2 separate regions of the Homo sapiens genome follow, and region 2 is linked to region 1. The links come from fine-mapping of genetic effects on gene expression. Tissue or cell type: whole blood. Region 1 holds a variant in brackets; the other region holds the start of a gene. All regions are shown on one strand. Distances are from middle to middle.

Region 1 (2,754 bases):
TTGAGGTTGGGAATTCGAGACCAGCCTGACCAATATGGAGAAACCCCATCTCTACTAAAAATACAAAATTAGCCGGGCATGGTGGCACATGCCTATAATCCCAGCTACTAGGGAGGCTGAGGCAGGAGAATTGCTTGAACCCGTGAGGCGGAGGTTGCAGTGAGCTGGGATCGCGCCATTGCACTCCAGCCTGGGCAACAAGAGCGAAACTCCATCTCAAAATAAATAAATAAATAAAAGTCCTTCTTTAGGTCTGGGCCCTGGGACCATGGATCCTCTGTCTGCTGCCTCTCATCTGGCAGGCAGCCCACCTGGAGATACAGATTAGGGATGGAGCCCAGAGCCTGCTCTTCCCCAGGCTAGAATATCTCTGACTTTGGGGCCAAATATATGGCTTGGGTCACTCAAACTTCTAGAGTTGAGGCTGTGAGGGGTCAGAGGATCCTGGACTAGGAGAGAACTGGGACTGGGCAGCGGGTGGTGGGTGAGACCTGCTGCGGCCCCCAGCCTGGCCGATTAATAAGCCTTTTTGTGTAGTTAAAGGACAAAGGTGTCCTGGGTGCCAGGCCCAGGCGGGGGTGGAGATGGGATGTGTAGAGAGACAGACAGACACAGAGAGAGACATGGAGATGGAGACACGCTGGAGAGAATCAGAGAAAAATGTGAATGAGGGGAGAGAGAACAGAGAGAGAGAAACAGACGGAGACAGACACAGACAGGAAGACTGAGACGAGAAAACGTGGTGGGATGGGAGAGACAGGGAGGGATGCCGTCCATTCAGCAAACACCTACTAAGCATCTGCCCTGTGCCAGGCACTGTGCCAGGTACTGGGGACACTGCAGGGAACAAGACAGCAAGGCCTCCGCTCCCAGGAGATCCTAGTTTTAAGAGGGAGACAGCATTAAGTAAATAAGCAAATGATTCTAGTTCCAGGCAGTGATAAGGTAAGGGAACAGCAGGGTAAGGGAACAGCGCCTGGGAAGGCTACTTTAGACAAGTGATCACAGGCAGCCTCTCTGAGGAAGTGACATTCGAGCAGAGACCTGAAACGCCAGGAGGAGCCAGCTGTGCAAAGATTTGAGAAGAGAGCCCCTGGAAGAGGAAACAGCAAATGCAGAGGGCCTGGAGCAGAATGACATGGCACACTCGTATATAAGGAGCAGAAAGGAGGCCGGCATGGCTGGAGCAGGGCAAGGGACAGGATCCAACAGGGAGGCAGGGCCTAGGTCTTACAGGGCTTCACAGGTCCAGGTAAGGACTCTGGCTTTCCCTCAG[G/T]GGGAGGTGGGAGCCAAGGGAGGGTCTGGAGCAGGGGTGTGGCTCTGACAGCTCCCTCTGGCCACTGAGTATGGATTGGAGGACGGCTGTTCAGGTGTGACTTGGTGGAGTCTGGATGAGGGGGGCAGGGGCAGGGGGCTCCCTGGGCTGCGGCACTCTACCCCTCCCCATGTCTGAGGGGCTGGGGAAGGAGCTTGGCTAGGCCAGGAATAATGGAGTTGTGAGGAGTCGGGGTCCCAAAGCCTTCTAAGCAGTCCTCTAGCCGTGGTCCTGGGCCTGCACACAGTGGCCTGTTCCTGCTGAGAGGAGGCTGGACCCGCACCTGGCCGCCCCACTGCCTAACTGCTACTACCAGTAGGTGTCTGCCTTCTCGGGGGGCTCATCTCCCCATCCACACGATGGGGGGTGCCTTTTAGTCCTGCCTGGTTCTCCCTTTGCAAACCCTAAAGTGCCGAGTACACGGCAGGAGCTGAGGTCCAGGTCTGGGCTGGACAGCCCCAGATCCCTGCCCAACTTTGTCTTCTCCTAGCTGCATGATGACTTCACCTCTCTGAGCCTCAGTTGCCTCACCTATGAAATGGGGATATGGATAACAAGGCCACCTCTGGGGGTGGTTAAGGGCTCAAGGAGCTGATGGTTGAGAGGGTGGCATGCAAATTCAACGTTCAGCCCAGTATGCTCCTCACTGACACAGGCAGGGCTGGCTGCGCCTGGGAGCACAACTGCCCACTGAGTAGGTGGCACAGAGGTTCAAAGTGAGCAGTCACTTGCTGGAGGTCACAAAAGATGCTAATAATAACCAGGAAGGCAGCTACCCTCTGCTGAGCACACCGCCTTCACGATCCCACTTATTCCTCTCAACAGCCCCCAGATAGAAATGCTCACCCTCCTCTGGTAAATCAGGAAACCGAGGTTCAGGGAGGGGAGGTGACTATCCTGGGTTCATACTGTCAAGTGACAAAACTGGGACTCGAACCTAGGTCTCCAGTTCCTTATCCTCATGGTTCTGAACCCAATGAGAAGTGACAGGCGCCCCGCTGGCAGCCTGTGTTTACAGTGGTGGTGTGGGGTCCTGGGTCAGGCCCCGTAACTGTGCTCTCCAGCCACAGGACAGTTGGTGGGGCAGAGACACACACAGGAGGCTTCAGGAACAAGGACCAAACAGAAGCACAGTGCAGACATCTGGGGGCCACTCAGCATGGGCTGGGCCTGGGCGTGTGTCCTCCTCCCAGATGGGAATCAGTACCCAAGCCCCCTGACTCTCCAGCCTCCCTGCCACCCTCACCTGGCTGATGCAGCTGGAGTCGTTGAGGCTGTCGCTGACGGGGGTGTAGTCCTCTTCCCAGCTCGGACACTTGGAGGGCAGCAGCATGTCCACTGAATCCAGGCGGTCCAGACTCCTGGTGGGGAGTGGGGAGCAGACAGGGCTCAGCCCACCCATTGTTCACCCAGCTTTTGGAGGCCTTGACCATCTGTGA
Region 2 (2,500 bases), 130 kb after region 1:
CGGGGGCTGGAACTGCAGCCCCCTCCCGCTATGTCATTTCCACTTCCAGGCAGGTGGGGGTGCCAGGAACCCTCTCCCCATCAGCGCTGCCCTCCAAGCTTAGGGCTTCCCATTCTCAGGGCACCTCCTCTACCCACCGCTCCCGGCACAACTGGCCTTTGCCAATCACAACCCCTCCCCCATTTCATTTTTTCCCACATCAACAGTCTCTGACAGCCCCTCTCTGCAACACAGGCAGCGGAGGAAGAAGGGGAGAAGGGCCGGAGGGATGGAGGGATGGAGGGATGGAGGGATGAAGGGATGGAGGGGGATCGGAGCGGCAGGTTCGGCCAAAAGAGACCAAGGGCCATTACACGTCCAGGTAGCACCTGTCCCCTTCCAGCAGGCCCAGCACATCTGGACCCAGCTGGTCCCCGCGGCCACCTGGTCCATCCGCCACCAGCTCTGAACGCGAACCCCTGTCTCCGCGGGGCGCCGCACGTGGGGGCCTCCGGTAGCCATGTGAGTGCCCCCCCAGCCCAGGTGCCCGGGTCAGCCCAGCCCCTCCCAGGGACGCAAACAGGGAGGGGGCGCTATGCAGCGCGGGAGGGGGGTGCTGCCCCCGCCCCCTCCCCAGATGCCAGGTCAGGGAAAGAGCTCGGGAAGGGGGGAGCCGGCGGCTCCCGGGTCTACCGAGACGGGATCCGAGGCAGCTGGGTTGAATGGAGGAATGCCCGGGCCGGCATAGCCCTGCTCTCCCAAGCGCCAAGGTTGGCCGGGCACGGGAGGGGTCCGCCTGACCCCCAGGCCGCCCTGCGGATTAGGGGGCGGGCCTGAGGAGGGGGCTTCCAGGCTTTGGCAGCCGCTTGATATGGGGTACGGGGGAGTCCGCGGGAAAAAGAGCCGGAATGGGGATCCGGTCCCGGACAGGGGTTCCGGGCCCCGGTGCCGCCGCCCCCGATTTGAGGGTCCGGGGAGACATGGATGGGGCGATCCCAACCGGAGAAGGCGCTTCCCAGCCGCACAGCCGGCCCCTCGGACCCGGGATCGGAAGACAGAACTGGCAGGGGAGGGGGCTTTTCTGCGCCAGCGCCGTCCCCCGGTTCAGGGAGGTCTGTCGGGGAGGAGACCAGATCGGGGGGTCTAGCCGAGGGACGGAGCGCGCCGGCCCGGGAAGGGGGTAGGAGCCGCCGCGCGCCACCCCCGCGCCCTCACCTGCGCCGGGCGCCTCGGCCGCCTCCGGCCCGCTCTGCCGTTCCGCTGCGCCGCCGCCGCCTCTCGGGTCCGCTCGCAGGTCCGCGCGCCTAGGCCCCGGCCCCCGCCCCGGCTCCGGCCCGCGGGCGCCCCATGCCTCTCCTCCGGCCGGCGCGGCGCCCCAGATGCGGCTGCGGGAGGAGGAGCCGTGCGGCCCCGGCTCCCCGAGAGCGGCGGGGAGGGGGCGGGGAGAGGGGAGAGGAGCGCGGGGGAGGGGGCCGTGCGGCTGCGCCCAAAACCAGGCGCGGATCGGGCCGCGGGCGCGGGGCTGGGGGGGCCTTGGGGGGGCCCGCGCCGTTCCTGGCGCCCCACCCCCACCCACGCCCCCGCAACCCGGGGGAAGGGGGAGGGTCTCCGCAGCGGGCGACCGCTCTGTCGCGATCCGGAAGAGCGCTTGGAAATCCGGGGCCGCCAGTCCAGAGAGGGCAGGCTACTGGAACAAGGTCACACAGCGCGGGCCGCGGTGGCACGGGAGCCTGGAACCCCAGGCTACGGGGCGGGCCGGCAGGAACCTGTGTTGACCATCGCCGCCCCGTGGAGGAGGGAAACTGAGGCCCAGAGAGAACGAGACTGGCCCGGGTCACACCGCGCCAGTCAGGAACCACCCCACCCCCGAGAACTTGGGGCTCCTGCCTCTAGGAATGGGTGCCCCCTCCCGGTGACCTGCTTCCGCAGAACCCTCTCCCAGGTGTCTTCTAGCCTCTGGCTGAACGGGGGTTAAATGCAGTCTCTGGAGTGGGATGAACCTGAACTGCGTACCAGCCCTGCCTCTCCTGGCTCTGTGGTTACAGACAAAAGACTGTCCCTCTCTGAGCCCCATTCCTCCACCTGTAAAATGGGGACACCACGAGTCTCTATCCCCAACTTGGGTGAGAAACCAAAGAGATCATGGGTATGAGCTCTTTACCGGTGCCTGGCATTCAGTAGGTGTCAAATGAATGTGCCTGCCTTCTCTGGCTCCCACACACAGCCATCTCCAGAGAATGCCTCTGAATGCAGAAGGGTCAGAATGGCGTGAAAGGGTGGCCTGCAAGGCTCCTCACAGCCCTGTTCCAGTCTCCTCCACCACCCACCCACCCTGCTCACATCCCCAACCCAGTGATGACTGTTTCAGTGCCCAGCCTCTGCCTTTCCCTGTGCCTGCCATGCCCTCCCACCTCTCTACCTGACAAACTCCTACTCATCCATCAAGGCCCAGAGCAATCTGTTTCGTACCCCAGCTTCTCACACTCCCTACTAGTCTACCCATATTTCCTTTCTCCAGAAC

Evidence for each region. PIP is the estimated chance that this variant, and not a neighbour inherited with it, causes the effect.
Region 2: DLGAP4 starts here. The variant in region 1 is fine-mapped to the expression of DLGAP4 in whole blood (TOPMed, PIP 0.95).

What each region holds. Positions count from the first base shown.
Region 1 is chr20:36,439,676-36,442,429 of GRCh38, reverse strand. It overlaps DLGAP4 (DLG associated protein 4), which reads right to left. Exons shown (of 13, transcript NM_001365621.2): 5 at 2,562-2,676. Among named protein-coding and RNA genes, the nearest start is that of MYL9, 100 kb to the left of the region's middle. RefSeq lists a silencer at 758-955. The variant G/T (reference allele first, on the strand shown) is at 1,277.
Region 2 is chr20:36,305,207-36,307,706 of GRCh38, reverse strand. DLGAP4 (DLG associated protein 4) reads right to left here and starts at 1,368. Exons shown (of 13, transcript NM_001365621.2): 1 at 1,195-1,368.